3 linked regions of the Homo sapiens genome follow. The protein of the gene in region 3 purifies or fractionates together with the protein of the main gene of each other region. This does not show direct contact. Each region holds a gene or a part of one and is shown on either strand. Other genes may lie near its edges.

Region 1 (2,345 bases), on a different chromosome or scaffold from region 3:
GAGCTTGGGGTGCTCCATGCCGATCATGGTGAAGAAGTCCTGGTCCCCGAGGTGGCCGCGGAAGTGGTACTTGTCGGCCAGCTGCTGCACCTGCGCCGGCTCCAGCAGGCGGCTGTAGAGCGGGGACTGGCGCATGGCCTCCAGGTTCAGCAACATCACCCCGCTGTTGAAGCCCGGCAGCCCCTCGGGGGGCGGGCCCCCAACCCGGGTCTGGGGGTTCTCATGGCGGAACTGCCAGAATGTGTGCCTGTGGAGAGAGAGGACAGAGTTAGTCCGGTGTGCAGGGGAACCAGCCTGCCGGCCTGCTGCCCTGGGTCTTCACAGCCAGCCTGCATGCAAACACTGCCACATTCCGGGGTGCAGAATCCGCATCACTACACCAGCAAGTGGCAGAGCTGGGACCTGAACCCAGGGCTCTGGACCCCAAGCCTCAGATTCTTTCTACCATCCTCTGCTACGTCCTCACCACAGCCAACATTGATATTATTGACTGAGGATGTACCAGGCGCCATACTAGACCGGCTTACTTACTCCCCACACAACCCCAGGGGATGGGTGCTCTGAGATGATACATCATTTCACAGCCAAGAAAACGGACGCACAGAGAGGTCAAGGTATTTGCCCAAAGTCACACACCTAGTAAGCAGCAGACGCAGGGACTAAACCCAGACAATCTGGCTCCAAAGTCCACATTCTTAAGATAGCAGCAATCTAGGTAGAACTTTCCACCCCCTTGTCTTCACCTGTGATCTTGAAAAGGAGAAGGGAGAGAGAAGCAGGGGACACAATCCTGAACAGAGATCTCATCAAGACGCAGGCAGCTGAACCCTGACTGGAACAGAACTGTTTTCTGCTTTAGAACAAGGCTCATTCATTGAGCCCCAAGCCTGGCACTTCAGAAAGGCTGGGCAGGGGCTGGGGGCCTGCGACAGCCCAGGGCACACCATGGGTTAGGGTGAAAGACAGCTGTAGAAGAGCCATGTAGGATGATGTCTACTTTAGAAGGAATGTCACTTCAAGTTCAATTTTTCTCTCAGCAGATTTAGAAACCAATCTAGGTTCATAGTTCAGGGAGTGTTAGCCTCTTCTAGGTCCTCTACCCAAATGCTTCCATCTGGAGGGGAGAAGAAAGACCTAGACACCTCCCTGTGAGGGCCAGGGTTAAAGCGCTGCACTGTCCTCCAGCCTCTTTAATAGCTAAGCCTCATGTGTGCTGCAAGGGGTGTGCAGGTGGAGGGGAGAGGCGTCCAAGCCCACACCCACAGAGGAGGGGCCACAGCAATCGTGCCGGTGACCTGGAGGAAGGAGGACCATCAGGAGGCCCACTGTGGCAGGGACAGGCGTGGGAGTGGGTCCTCACGGGGAGGACACATCGTGGCAGAACCAGCTCTGCCTCCCAGCCTGGAGATGCTGCCCCACCGGCCCCCGCAGAGAGACTTCCCCACCCAAACCCAGGATAGGATCTGCGTGATGAAGCAGAAGGTACGGGGGAATAAAACCGGAGACCCTGCCCAGGGTGGCCCTGAGGGGCCACTTCTCAGCACCAGCACATTGCTCCGCTTCTGGGAACGGAGGAACCTTCCTCAAGGTCTCACGTATCACAGAGAGTGCCAAGAGTCTGATCCTGGCGAGGGGGAAGCATTCCCTCCGGACATTCTTACAGGGGAATCCACAGGGCCACTGCTTGTGTTCTGCTGTGAGTGGAACCGAGCTCTGGTGCCTGCCTGGTGGTAACAGCCTTGGCAAAAATAAGCTTCTCAAGCAAACTGAGATGCTGTCATCTTGCCACAAAAGTCTGCGGTGATAGGGTCACACAGGGTTGGGATGCAGTGTGGCAGCTGTGTGTTCATTTTACCCTATTTCTTCCCAGTGGTTCATTTCAGGACCAGGTTATAAAGCAGCTAAAATTCTACCAGGCAGACCAGGGCACCATGACATCAGAGAGGAGGGACCCTCTGACTAGGGGCAGTGGGTGCTTTACCACCAAGGAGCTCGATTTACCCTTCGAGGGGTGGGAACGAAGCGTTTACCGAGGTGGAGCAGAGACCCAAAGGGAGGGAGGGCACGAGAAGCAGGGAGGCAGGACCTGTGGCCGCCGAGGTCCTGGACTACCTCATGCTCCACGGAGCCCACGTGTCCATCTTTCTTTACTGTCCAGAGTACCCAGGAGGGAGAGGACTCACCCAGCTGGGGGTGTGGCCCGTGCAGTCTCTTGTGTCCACAGGACCTCACAGGGCACCAGCACAGCAGGGCCACAGGAAAGATCACAGGGCTGATGAGGAACGATGGAAAGGCAGGCGTGGGGTGGACCGTGCAGCTGTCGACACCGGGTGGAAGCAGGGGGC
Region 2 (3,657 bases), on a different chromosome or scaffold from region 3:
AGAAAGGGGGAGTTTTTATATCAAGAGTCTTTGTTAGCCACACAATTAGGCAATTTTACAAATTACTTACTCCTGCTTGGTTATACCAATCAGAATGTGGTAGGTGAGATATGTTATGATAGAGACAGGTAAAAAAGGAAACATAAAAAAAGGATCTTTGGTAAACAAGTCTTTAGTAATGTTGAGCAGATACAGTAAGATAGCTCAGAAAATTCTAAAAGTATAATGAGGGTTGTTTTGAAAACCTCATTAGCATAATGATATTTAGAGCATTTCTGAATAGCAGAATTTTAAAAACACAAAGCACTTAGCTGCATTTTCTTTTCAATCTATATTTTTGTCAAACTAAAGCCTCTTCCAAATAGCAGCCTAACAAACTTCCAGGGACTAGTCAGATTCCTTACTGGTGCAGGTGTTTCATTGCACTAAATACTGTTTGAAATAAGTAGAGCATTCAGGCTTTAAAATCACTTTGTTGTACTAAGTCAACTGTAATAGCAATTTTGGAAATTCAATTTAGCTCATTCCAAGAGTTTCCAAACATTACTAAGAAGACTACTTTCAGAACAAAAATGTCATCAATTCCCATTCTAAAAAATGGAAATGAATAAAGAAAGGACTATTTGTATATATTAACGCCTTAGCTAAGCAGCCAATTTAAAGACACAAATTGTAAAACACAAATTATATATTTGATTTTTAAAAACAAAACAACAAAAAAAATCTGATGTCTATCTGCAATGAAGCAGAAGCCAAACATCATCAGCATGTTCTAATCTAGAATAATCTCACTAAACCTACCTCAGAATGAGTTTCAGATAGGTAGCCTCTGTGTTGGTAATTTTGGAAGAGAAATATATGCTCATAACACAAAAAGGTGACTAACACTAAGACAGTTAAATCTATACCTATAGAAGCTCAAGTGCATTCTTACTTCTGTTTTGTGATTTTTATTTGTAAACTCACTCAGTTCCACTGATGAAGACAAATTGCTTAGCCCCACTAAAACTGCGTATTAGCCCAGGAATCCTAACAAGTTGTCAGAATTTTCCTTTTTCTAAAACAGTATTTCTAAACCTAGAATGAGGGTATCTATTCAAGTGATTATTATTTTCAAGAAAATGAGTTAATACTTCCAGAAGGATGTAAAATATATTTCTCCTTAGAGAATGATAAAGCAGTCAGGTGCAGTAGCTAACATCTGTAATTCCAGCACTTTGGGAGGATCGCTTGAGCCTAGGAGTTTGAGACCAGCTGGGGCAACACAACAAGACCCCATCTCTATAAAAAATTAAAAATAGCCAAGGATGGTGGCACACACCTGTAGTCCTAGCTAAGCTACTTGGGCAGCTGAGGCAGGAGGATGGCTTGAACACAAGAGTTTGAGGTTACAGTGAGCTATGATTGTGTCACTGCACTCCAGCCTGGACGACAAAGCAAGATCCTGTCTCAAAAAAAAAAAAAAAAAAAAAGGCCAGGCATGGTGGCTCACACCTATAATCCTAGCACTTTGGGAGGCCAAAGCGGGCAGATTGCCTGAGCTCAGGAGTTCAAGACCAGCTGGGCAACACAGTGAAACCCCATCTCTACTAAAATACAAAAACTTAGCTGGGCGTGGCAGCATGCGCCTGTAGTCCCAGCTACTCGGGAGGCTGAGGCGGAGGCTGCACAGTAAGCCGAGATGGCACCACTGCACTCCAGCCTGGGCAACAGGGAGAGATTCCGTCTCCCAAAAAAAAAGATGCCTTGCCATCTCGGGTTGGGAGAGCTCTAAACTTAGGAAATAAGCAATCTGTATTTTGATAATTCCTAAATAAAAAATGAAACACTAACAATATAAAGAAAACTGTCTTGCTGTAAAAATCAAAACCACATCCTTTAGTTTTACAATTGGGTTTTCTGGCATAAACAATGACAACTTGCGAATACAAAGGAAAAACCTGGCCATTTTCTGTTTATTGACCTATTTTTGAAATGCAGAAACTTTGGCTGGGCGCAGTGACTCACACCTATAATCCCAGCACTTTGGGAGGCCAAGGCGGGCGGATTGCCTGAGTTCAGGAGTTCGAGACCAGCCTGGGCAACACAGTGAAACCTTATCTCTGCTAAAATACAAAAAATTTAGCTGGGTGTGGCGGCATGCGCCTGTAATCCCAGCTACTTGGGAGGCTGAGGCAGGCTAATCACTTGAACCTGGGAGGTAGAGGTTGCAGTGAGCTGAGATTGTGCCACTGCACTCCAGCCTGGTGATGGAGCGAGACTTTGTCTCAAAAAAAAAAAAAATTACAGAACCTTTATTTAAAAAGGTGTGTTTTGCTCATGCCTGTAATCTCAGCACTCTGGGAAGCCAAGGCAGGAGGACTGTTTGAGGCCAGGAGTTCAAGACTGGCCTGGTCAACATAATGAAACTCCTGTCTCTACACACACAACACACAAAAACACACACACACACACACACACACACTCTCTCTCTCAAATTAGCCAGATATGGTAGCAGGCACCTGTAGTCCCAGCTACTGAGGAGGCTGAGGTGAGAGGATCACTTGAGCCCGGAAGTTCAAGGCTACAGTGAGCTATAATCACGCCACATGCTCTAGCCCAGGTGACAGAGAGAGACCCGTCTCTAAAAATATATATATATAAATTAATAAAAAGCCTGTTTTTCATGGCCCAGATATTGAAGAGAAATAGAAAATAGCTCTAATCTCAAAAGGAAGAAAAAAATGTAAAATTCAGCTGAAAGTCTGCCTTGCCATCTTGGATTGGGTGACCTCTAATCTTAGGAAATAAAGATACTACTTCCTCATTAAAACCTCAAACTGCACCAATAGTCACAAAATTTACCACTTTTGTGAAAATGTTTTCACTTCATACTAATATTATGAAAGGAATGCCAATCAGTATGAATTTCCCATGCAGGTCAAACTGCAGATTTTTGGCTTATGTGCTGTATATTAGGGAAAAAATTAAACCAAGTATTTTTTATGTGGTAGATATCTTTACATACCATGTACACTCCAGATATATTACTAATTTCAAACATCTGAAGTTTCCCTGAAAATTCCATTTAGGCACTTAGCATCAAAGCAAAAGAAGGCTGGGGCGGTCAATCATCTGAAGATGGGTTTAACACCTTCCTCTTCGACCCACTTCAAAGCATGGATTTTTTTAAGGGGGGGAGGTGGAATCAGATTAGGAATTCAGCCTGACTTAAGCCACTGTTATAACAAAGGTCAAAGCATTCTAAGTTTTGAAATGCCGAATTAATCTCTAACTGAAGGAAAACATGTCAATTATCACCATGCAGACCCACCAGAACCTTATCTGAGACAGCTTGCTAAAGCTAAGGGGCTTTCAAATCACTCAGTTCAAACTCACACCTTCCTTATGTCTCTTCCTATAACAACCCTAACAGCAATTTAAACACTGACAGTGATAAGGACTTAAACAGTTCAAGCTAGGAAGGTCGATCTCCCTAAGCTGTAACTCAACTTCTAAGGCGTAGCTGTGCCTGATTACACCAGAGACTATACCTATTCCTTTCCTTCCATATAAAAATCCCACAGCGTATCTGTTCACAGAAATCTTCCCTTCTCCAGGCTAAAAATCTCCATGTTTTGCAAATGCTCAAACCAGTCCTGCTCCAAAAGCTACACT
Region 3 (3,285 bases):
GCAAGATTCAGGGAAGGCCAGGAGATAGGGGGTGATTTGCCTTACTGAGAGTTTTTGACTTCTAAAGCACCTGACCTGCCTCACACCTCTGGAGCCCGTGCTATGGTCTGAAGGCTTGTGGGCTTGTGTCCCTGCAAATTCCCATGTTGAAACCTGACCCCAAGGTGATGGTGTTAGGAGGTGGGGCCTTTGGAAAGTGATCAGATCATGAAGGTGGGGTCCTAATGGGAGCAGCATCCTTATAAAACAGGCCCAAGGGAGCTTCTTTACCTCCTTTTGCATCTTTTTTTCTTTTCCCTTTTTTTTTTTTTTTTTTTGAAATGGAGTCTCTCTCTGTTGCCCAGGCTGGAATGCAGTGGTGTGATCTCGGCTCACCGCAACCTCCACCTCCCAGGTTCAAATGATACTCCTACCTCAGCCTCCGGAGTAGCTGGGAGGCACTGGAGTAGCTTACAGGCACCCACCACCTCACCCGGCTAATTTTTTTGTTTGTTTTGTTTGAGACAGAGTCTCACTCTGTCGCCCAGGCTGGAGTGCAGTGGCGCGATCCTGGCTCACTGGAACCTCTGCCACCTGGGTTCAAGCGATTCTCCTGCCTCAGCCTCCCGAGTAGCTGGGATTACAGGCACCTGCCACTGTGCCAGGCTAATTTTTGTATTTTTAGTAGAGATGGGGTTTCACCATCTTGGCCAGGCGGGTCTTGAACTCCTGACCTCGTGTCCACCCGCCTCAGCCTCCCAAAGTGCTGGGATTACAGGCGTGAGCCACTGCACCTGGCCGAATTTTTGTATTTTTAATAGAAATGGGGTTCCACCATGTTGGCCAAGCTGATCTCGAACTCCTGACCTCAAGAGATTTGCTTGCCTCAGCCTCCCAAAGTGCTGGGATTACAGGCATGAGCCACAGCACCTGGCCTGACATCTTTTTTTTTTTTTTTTTTTTTTAGATACAAGGTCTTGTTCTGTTGCCCAGGCTGAAATGCAGTGGCTCCACCATAGTTCACTGCAGCCTTCACCTCCTAGGCTCTAGAGATGCTCCAGCCTCACCCTCTTGAGTAGCTGAGACTATAGGTGTGCACCATCATGCCCAGCTAATTTAAACTTTTTTTTGTAAAGATGGGGTCTTGCTATGTTGACCGGGCTGGTCTCGAACTCCTGGCCTCAAGCTATCCTCCCACCTTGGCCTCCCAAAGTGTTGGGATTACAGGCAAGAGCCACTGCTCCTGGCCACCTCCTTTCACCATGTGAAGTCACAGTGAGAAGGTGTCATTTATGAACAAGAAGCAGGCCTTCACCAGACGCCAAATCTGCTGGCACCTTGATCTTGGGCTTCCAGCCTCAGAACTGTGAGTTCTACATTTTTGTTGTTTATAAGCCACCATCTAGATCTTCACTGCACTCTTGGCAAAAATTCATTCCTTCATTGGCTTCATCTATTCTGGGTCATGGATTCCTTTTATGAAAGTCACAGACTGACATTTGCACTACACTCTGAAGCCTAACCAGGGGACCCCCAGAAATCCAGGGAGGTTGGGTTTAGAACCTTGCCTTACCCAGTAACTGTGTTTACTGTAGTCTCCCCTCTAGGACTATCTCAGTTGCGATTAAAAAATCAAAGGCTCACACAGTGTTCTCCTCCTTGGGTTCTAGCCTTTTAATCCGTTTTGAGGCTGGAGAATGGCGTGCTCTTCGTCTGCCCTCATTCTGGGAAACTGGAGGACACTTCTAAGGTAATGGCTTAGGTTCAAGAGGAAATAGACTGGCAGCTTTGTAAGAAGCCGTATGCTTGGCTGGGCACAGTGGCTCACACCTGTAATCCCAGCACTTTGGGAGGCTGAGGGGTGGGCAGATCGCGTGAGGCCAAGAGTTCGAGACCAGCCTGGTCTCAAACATGGTGAAACCCTCTCTCTACTAATTATCCAAAATGAGCCAGGCATGGTGGCAGACGCCTGTAATCCCAGCTACTCGGGAGGCTGAGGCATGAGAATTGCTTGAACCCAGGAGGCGAAGGTTGCAGTGAGCCGAGATTGCATCACCGCACTCCAGCCTGGGCGAATCGCACCACTGCACTCCAGCCTGGGCAACAGAGTGAGACTCTGTCTCAAAAATAAAAATAAAAAATAAAAAATAAGCCGTATGCTTCAACCGGCCAGTGGGGTCCGGTTGGAACACTGCCATGTGTGACCCTCAGTCGCCCTTTCCAACACAAGGGTCTGCAGAAACACTTGGCCCCCATCACTACCTTGATGTCCAGAAAAGAAGGGGCCACCGTGGCCATCTAATGATTTCAGAAGGGGTTGGGTCAGCCCAACAGCTCTCAGGAAGGCCCACCCAGGGGGAAGCAGAGTCCTGGAAGAGGAGCTGGGATGGGTGGTGGTCTCATCTGTCTTCAGTGACTCACTGTGACCACAATGACCCTGGGCCAGTTGGCATTCCCCTCTGATTTAATGTCCTTTAGCATAAAAATGAAATAGCTTTCCTTCCAGCAGCCAGAGTATTTTAATGTATTCTTTGAACCAGAAATAATGGTTCCAGGAAGTACGTTCACAGTAATAATTCAAATAAAGAGGCCACATGGAGGAGACAGAAGGACGGAGGACTTGGGGACAGACGACTGGTTGTGACTCTTATGTGCTGTGTGACTTTGGGCAAGTCACTCAGCCTCTCTGAGCCATACCCTCACCTGTAAAGAGGGGACATTAGCATACTGAACCTTCCAGGGCTGCTATGGGACTTCTATCCTTGTTACCAATAACTGAAGACCTACTGTGTCTTCCTACTCAGCTTTGTGCTAAATACACACTTAACAGGTATCACTTCACCCACTTTCCAGATGGGGTAACTAAGAAGTTAAATGACCTGCTAAAAAGTTACCATTTAGTGTTGCTGAGTCAGCCTGACTCCAAAGAACAGGCTGTTATAAAACTGGACATGATGATATAAATGCTAGTTGTTATACTATTAACAGAGGAATTAAAGTGATTGTGGAGTTTTCGATTTTTCTTTATTTATTATTATTTTTTTTGAGACAGAATCGTGCTCTGTCGCCCAGGCTGGAGTGCAGTGCCATGATCTCAGCTCACTGCAGCCTCTGCCTCTTGGGTTCAAGCAATTCTCCTGCCTCAGCCTCCCGAGTAGCTGGGATTACAAGTGTGCACTACCGTGCCCAGCTAATTTTTGTATTTTTAGTAGAGATGGGGCTTCACCATGTTGGCCAGGCTGGTCTCGAACTTCTAGCCTCAAGAGATCCACCTGACTCGGCCTCCCAAAGTGCTGGGATTACAGG

The links.
Region 1: the proteins of ASPHD2 (region 3) and XXYLT1 purify together in Homo sapiens (co-immunoprecipitation; one large-scale study listed by IntAct). This does not show direct contact.
Region 2: the proteins of ASPHD2 (region 3) and METTL9 purify together in Homo sapiens (co-immunoprecipitation; one large-scale study listed by IntAct). This does not show direct contact.

What each region holds. Positions count from the first base shown.
Region 1 is NC_000003.12:195,069,865-195,072,209, forward strand, and holds part of XXYLT1 (xyloside xylosyltransferase 1), read right to left. Parts: intron 248-2,345; coding exon 1-247. UniProt on the Homo sapiens protein: Alpha-1,3-xylosyltransferase, which elongates the O-linked xylose-glucose disaccharide attached to EGF-like repeats in the extracellular domain of target proteins by catalyzing the addition of the second xylose.
Region 2 is NC_000016.10:21,619,957-21,623,613, reverse strand, and holds part of METTL9 (protein-L-histidine N-pros-methyltransferase isoform 1 precursor), read right to left. Parts: intron 1-3,657. UniProt on the Homo sapiens protein: Protein-histidine N-methyltransferase that specifically catalyzes 1-methylhistidine (pros-methylhistidine) methylation of target proteins.
Region 3 is NC_000022.11:26,439,138-26,442,422, reverse strand, and holds part of ASPHD2 (aspartate beta-hydroxylase domain-containing protein 2), read right to left. Parts: intron 1-3,285. UniProt on the Homo sapiens protein: May function as 2-oxoglutarate-dependent dioxygenase.